2 linked regions of the Homo sapiens genome follow. The protein of the gene in region 1 purifies or fractionates together with the protein of each later gene. This does not show direct contact. Each region holds a gene or a part of one and is shown on either strand. Other genes may lie near its edges.

Evidence for each region. The genes of interacting proteins can lie anywhere in the genome.
Region 2: the proteins of VLDLR (region 1) and SYT11 purify together in Homo sapiens (co-immunoprecipitation; one large-scale study listed by IntAct). This does not show direct contact.

The regions. Positions count from the first base shown.
Region 1 is NC_000009.12:2,649,287-2,652,786, reverse strand, and holds part of VLDLR (very low-density lipoprotein receptor isoform a precursor), read right to left. Parts: exon of another isoform or gene 2,418-3,500; coding exon 2,271-2,417; exon of another isoform or gene 1,373-2,270; coding exon 1,289-1,372; exon of another isoform or gene 914-1,288; coding exon 833-913; exon of another isoform or gene 8-832; coding exon 1-7. UniProt on the Homo sapiens protein: Multifunctional cell surface receptor that binds VLDL and transports it into cells by endocytosis and therefore plays an important role in energy metabolism.
Region 2 is NC_000001.11:155,876,567-155,880,066, reverse strand, and holds part of SYT11 (synaptotagmin-11), read right to left. Parts: intron 1-3,500. UniProt on the Homo sapiens protein: Synaptotagmin family member involved in vesicular and membrane trafficking which does not bind Ca(2+). Inhibits clathrin-mediated and bulk endocytosis, functions to ensure precision in vesicle retrieval.

The DNA of each region.
Region 1 (3,500 bases):
AAGAGCACTGAAAAAAATCAGAGGGTAGCTAAGTGAGCTAAGTCTAGTATTGGAACATACAAGAAAGGTAATAACGTTCAGGAATCCATAATAATTGACATTAGTAAAAATGCCATGTTTTATGGAGCTAGGATAACTAGAAGTTGGAATACACATGGGCCAGGAGCTTGAAACAAGTTCAGCCCAGAGGTAGCTCTGTGCACTGGAGCTGGACTAGCCACATCCATCCAGGCAAGGGCAGGGTCCTCGGTCCCACCTTAGGCTCACCAAATTAAAATTGCAGAAGGTTCTGGAGAGCTATTCAGGTGGTCCTGGCGTGTTAGCTAAGCTTGGGTCTCTTCATTTAGGACAAAGGTTTTTATAGCAAAGTCCTTAGAATTTGCGTGTCTCGTTTAGAGGTCCTTTTCCATAGGTTTGAAAATTCTTAACTGCTTTTAATTTATCCTCAACAAGTCCTGTAACTCTTAGCATTTAAGCATTTGTGCATCTCCTCTGTATGAAGCATTACACACATTTCAAAGGGGGAACAGAACAGTACACTAGTTAAAGAGACTTATTATAAAAGGGGATAAGCCAGGTTAACAGTGCGGAAGTAGAAAGCATTAACCGTTGAACACTTATCATTGCCAGTTACTGTGCCAAAGGTACAACTGAAGAGAAAGATATGGGCCTTAATTTAGTGTATTATGTGGGGGAGAAAGCGAACGTAATTCAGTGTCATAAATGCTAGACAGCATAAAGGCCCATGAAAGGGGTAGCTCCAGATGAACAAAAAATCTTCATCTGGTATCTAAGAAGTTCTTGAACCCAGACTTGTAGGAAATCTACTTACAGAGAGGAAGAATGGCCCATGCGGCAGAAGTCCCTTTTGGGGGAACACTGACCTCTGATACTGCTGTGGTCACATTGATCCCTACAGAGGAATAAAAGGAATCAGTTTAGAAGGATCTGTATTCAGACTTAGAAATTTACCCATCAGGTAAGGAGCCAAAACCTTTGCATCCAATATTGATGTTCAGTATCTACAACAATTGAACACCAGGAACAACTCTGGCTTAGAAGTATTTGAGTCACATGCTGTAGTAGCCATTTCACTGACAGTTCTCTACTAGAAACCTTTAAGATCAGTCAGGAAAAGATATGCAAGTTTTAAGTCTTTGGTGTTTAAATATAGGTTACCAATTGGGGCAGAAATAGTAGTTAAAGGCTGCATTAATTATTTAAGCTGTAGATACAAAGAGTGTGGCTGTTAGTTGAGATTAACAGTTTGCAGTACTGAACTCAATACCTCCAGGAACTAGTCCACTAGTTGCTGAAATTTCTGTTGTGTTCGTATCTTTTGTCTCACTGTAAGTCACAGTAGTTGCAGTACCTGAATTATAAAAACCAAGAACCTGGTTAATGCCAGGGTTCCAGCATGGCTAGCTGTTTTGTCCAGACAAGCCATGTAAAAGGTTATTTTAAAACCAGGTAAAATAGACAAACCACTGCTGAACTAAGTTGTACAGCTGATGTGTCAACATTGAAATAGCAATCTTCATGCAAAAAAGAGATACATGAAACTTTGGGAAGGACAGTCGGTGTTTGGAATTTGACAATTCAAAATGATGGACAACCACATTTTATCCCTCTAAACAACATCCCATGTTCCTGGAAACTACGAGAAATGTTCTCAAGATGCTCTGGTATACCAGGCATACCAGACTGTCTTGCAACTAATTTCTTGGTAAACTGAGCTAATCCCTGCCTGACCATGAATTACGCTAATAAAAACCTCATCAGCCTCACCATACAAGCTCCTTGATCACACAAATGACTTTAATTTGCCACTTAATCAAAAGTTAAGAACAGAAGACTAAATGCAAATTCAGCCTAAGTGTTATTTTAGGGTAGCGTCACCCACTGAGGCAATGAGGTTTCTGTAACCATGGCCTTCCTTAAGCATAATTTCTGTCCTCCTCCTTTTGAGGAAAAATGTTAAGGCCTCATTTAATTACCTGCAAGTTGGCTAGCTCAGTGCTGTTAAGGGACTAGGTACAAATTAGTGTAAGGTATGTTGACACTTTAGTCTCCTATAAACTCATTTAATGTTGAAATGGGTTAAAGTCAGTTCTAAAGAAATGACATGATAACCCGGCATACAATAGCAGATATCTTCTCAAATCTATTCAAAGAATTAGCTAAGACAGAATTCTTAAAAATCCAAGCTTGTGTCTTATTATATTGCTTGTTGTAGGTTCTACTTGTGGTTGAAACACAAAATGCCTTACTTTGACAGTCTCGGCCATTTTCCTCTACATTGTACCCACTGGGACAGGAACAGGTATATTTTGGAGAGTGATCATTAATCTGTGGTGCTGGCAGGCATAGGTATTCACATCCTCCATTCTCCATGTCTTCTTCACACCAATTTTTACCTAGTCAGGAAAAAAAATACCATTAAAATGGGTATTCCGGTGCCTAGTATATATAAAGCCTTGTTCTACATGTTGAAGACCTGAGTCCTTGCCCCCAAGAGCTTAAACTTGTCTACTCTGCTAATCCTTCAAGTGAGAACAGTATCAAGGAAGAATAAGTATACAGGTACAGGCAGCATGCTCTAAGGACACCAGATAAGGGACCTCTTCGAGATAGACTGTAAAAGTTATGCCTTTAAGAGACAGATGCCAAAAGAGGAGGTGGGGAAGGGAGGTGAGGGACCAGGACTGGCTCTCACTATTTGCCCGAGGTTTAGCGTGAAGGCTCAGAGAAAGGAGACTAGGCATGTTCTCCTGGTTTTCTCTTGACTTGCTCCAACAAAGTGGAAGGAAACTCAGCCTTAGGAAGGTTTGAAGGCTTTATTTAGATAGAACCAGCCAAGTGTTTTCAGCAGGAGATAATATAACCCGATGTGTTTGAGAATCTACACAATCCTATATCAGGTGTGTCACAGGGGGAAAGTAGGTGTTATGAGTTGAATGGTGTTCCTCCCTAAAATTCATATAATGAAGTCCTAGTACCTCAGAATGTGATCTTATTTGGAGATATTGAGGATAGGATATTTACAGAGGTAATCAAGTTAAAATGAGGTCATTAAGGTGGGCTCTAATCCAATATGACTGTTATTACAGCTCACGCCTGTAATTCCGGCACTTTAGGAGGCCGAGGCAGGCAGATTACTTTGGGTCAGGAGTTCGAGACCAGTCTGGCCAACATGGTGAAACCCCATCTCTACTAAAGATACAAAGTTTAGCTGGACGTGGTGGCTCACTCCTGTAGTCCCAGCTACTCGGGAGGCTGAGGCAGGAGAATTGCTTGAACACAGGAGGCGGAGGTTGCAGTGAGCCGAGATTGTGCCACTGCACTCCAGCCTGGGTGACAGAGCAAGAGTCAGTCTCCAAAAAACAGAAAAAGAAAGAAAGCAAGAAAGCTGGACACGAGCATATACAGAGGGACGATGATGTGAAGAGACAAAGGGGGAAGAGCACCATCAACAGACCAAGAAGAGGCCTGGAACAGAC
Region 2 (3,500 bases), on another chromosome or scaffold:
GTGTGTGCCACCACATCTGGCTAATTTTTCTTTTTTCTATACACAGAGTCTCACTGTGTAGCCCAGGCTGGTCTTGAATTCCTGGTCTCAAGTGATCCTCCCGCCTCAGCCTCCCAAAATGCTGGGATTACAGGCATAAGCCACCATGCCCAGTTGCTATTTCTTATCTGTGACCTTGGACAAGTTACTCAACATCTCTGTACTTCAGTTTCCTCACCTATAAAATGTGGGTGAAAGGTTGTACCTACCACATAGCATTATCAGAAGGATTAAATAAGTTAAAATTTGTAAACTGCAATGGTGCCCAGCACATAGTGCGCACTATAGAAGTGCATCCTCTCATTTGGTTCTTATCCTTTAAAAAGTTCTGAAGACTGTACAGTGGGAGGTAGGAGAACTGGGTTTGAATCTTAACCTTGCCACTTACTCACCACATGTCCTTGGGCAAGTCCCTGAACCTGTCCCTGCATTTCACAGGGTGAATATCCACACCTGCTCTGCCCACCCCAATGTGCACTCCAGTGTATCTTCTCCAGCCAAGTCAGCTTCCTCCCCAGCACCCTGATCTTTGTTTCTCCATCTTTAAATGTGATGCTAGGCTCCATTTTGAGCTTGAAAAAACCTCTAGTCCTCCAATAACTTTTTTTTTGAGACAGAGGCTCGCTCTTGTCGCCCAGGCTGGAGTGCAGTGGCGTGATCTCGGCTCACTGCAACCTCTGCCTCCCAGGTTCAAGTGATTCTCCTGTCTCAGCCTCCAGAGTAGCTGGGATTACAGGTGCCCGCCACCATGCCCGGCTAATTTTTGTATTCTTAGTAAAGACAGGATTTCACCATGTTGGCCAGGCTGGTCTCGAACTCCTGACCTCAAGTGATCTGTCTACCTCGGCCTCCCAAAGTGCTGGGATTACAAGCGTGAGCCACCGTGCCTGGCCCCTCCAAGAACATTTTAAAGAACATTTTCATAGGCACTGCATGCCAGGTTTTGAGGATCCAGAGCTGATGGGACTCAGTTGTTGCTCCCAAGGAGCTTACCACTTAGTAGAAGAGTCAGAGAAGTAAATAAACCTGTGCGGGACTTGTCAGAGAAATGAGAAGCCTGTCTAAGTGCTCTGGGCACCTAGAGCTGGGAGATTCAGGGGAGGCTTTTTTAATTAATTAATTAATTAATTTATTTATTTATTTTTTAATTTTATTTTTTGAGACAGAGTCTCTCGCTCTGTCACCCAGGCTGGAGTGTAGTGGCGAGACCTCGGCTCACTGCAACCTCCGCCTCCCAGGTTCATGCCATTCTCCTGCCTCATCCTCCTGAGTAGCTGGGACTACAGGCGCCCGCCACCACGCCCGGCTAATTTTTTTTGTATTTTTAGTAGAGACGGGGCTTCACCATGTTAGCCAGGATGGTCTTGATCTCCTGACCTCATGATCCGCCCGTCTCGGCCTCCCAAAGTGCTGGGATTACAGGCGTGAGCCACCGCGCCCGGCCATGGAGATTCAGGGAAGGCTTTACCAGCTGATGCCTGGACTGAGTTGATGGGGGTACAAAACCATGAAGCAATGGGCAGAGGGATGATCATATCAGGCAGATTGACAGAAATGGCTGGTACAAAGGAGTTGGGCCTGAAAAGGTAAGCTGTGTTCAGAGAATGGTTGAGAGGTGAATATGCCTGAAGTGGGGGTGGCTGATAGGAGGGGTAGGTCAGGAACCTGGAAAGGTGGGCAAGGCTAGAGTAAAGGGCTGTTGGGACACTACCAAAGAGCAGAGTCAGCAGCACCCATACAAGAGGAGGTTGGTGAGTATAGGAGTGGCAAAGCTGTCATTTTTTTGAGTCAGGGTCTCACTCTGTTGCCCAGGCTGAAGGACAGTGGTGAGATCTCGGCTTTCTGCAACCTCCACCTCCTGGGCTCAGGAGATCCTCCCACCTCAGCATCCCAGGTAGCTGGGACTACAGGTGTGCACCAACATGCCAGGCTACATTTTGTATTTTTTGTAAAGACAGGGTCTCACTATGTTGCCCAGGCTGATCTCAAATTCCTGGGGTCAAGCAATCCGCCCACCTTGGCCTCCCAAACTGCTGGGATTGCAGGTGTAAGCCACCATGCCTGGCCAGTTGTCATCATTTTATTAAAATTATTATTATTTCAGAGAAAGGTGGAAAATGAGCTAAAGTCGAGGAAGACCAACATCAGAAAGCTCAGTTAAGAGGCCGCTATAGCCGGGAGCAGTGGCTCATGCCTGTAATCCTAGCACTTTGGGAGGCCGAGGCAGGCGGATCACGAGTTCAGGAGATCGAGACCATCCTGGCTAACACGGTGAAACCTGGTATCTACTAAAAAAATACAAAAAAATTAGCCGGGCGTGGTGACTGGCGCCTGTAGTCCCAGCAACTGGGGAGGCTGCGGCAGGAGAATGGCGTGAACCCGGGAGGCGGAGCTTGCAGTGAGCCGAGATTGCGCCACTGCACTCCGGCCTGGGCAACAGAGCGAGACTCTGTCTCAAAAAAAAAAAAAAAAAATTAGCTGGGCGCAGTGGCGTGTGCCTATAGAGCCAGCTACTTGGGAGGACTGATTGAGCCCCGGAGATCGAAGCTGCAGTGAGCTGTGTTTGAGCCACTGCACTTCAGCCTTGGTGACAGAGTGAGACCCTGTCAAAAAGAAGCTGCTGTGGCTGGGCGCAGTGGCTCACGACTCTATTCCCAGCACTTTGAGAGGTCAAGGCAGGTGGATCACCTGAGGTCAGGAGTTCGAGACCAGCCTGGCCAACATGGTGAAACCTCATCTCTACTAGAAATAGAAAAATTAGGCCGGGCGCAGTGGCTCACACCTGTAATCCCAGCAATTTGGGAGGCTGAGGTGGGCGGATCACGAGGTCAGGAGATTGAGACCATCCTGGCTAACAAGGTGAAACCCTGTCTCTACTAAAAATACAAAAAAATTAGCCAAGCATGGTGGCGGGTGCCTGTAGTCCCAGCTACTTAGGAGGCTGAGGCAGGAGAATGGCGTGAACCCGGGAGGCAGAGCTTGCAGTGAGCCGAGATTGTAGTCACTGCACTCCAGCTTGGGCAACAGAGCAAGACTCCGTCTCAGGAAAAAAAAAAAAAAAAAGAAATAGAAAAATTAGCCGGGTGTGGTGGCGGGCGCCTGTAACCCCAGCTACTCAGGAGGCTGAGGCAGGAGAATCGCTTGAACCAAGGAGGTGGAGGTTGAGGTGAACCTTGATCACGCCACTGCACTCCAGCCTGGGCGACAGAGTGAGACTCCATCTCAAAAAAGCAGACTTCGTTGTTCTGTAGCAACGTGCTACAGAAGAAATGATTGGGACTGGAACTAGGGCTGTGGCAGAGGAGATGGACATGGAGGTAAAATATGTCTCAGGAAGAATTGTCAGGGGTTTTTAGGCTTGGGCAGTTAATTGGCTGTGAAGCGTAGGGAAGAGGGAGGAAAGGGTGGACTATTTCTTGTGTTTTTAGCTTTAGAAAGTGGGGATGAGGCTGGGATAAAGA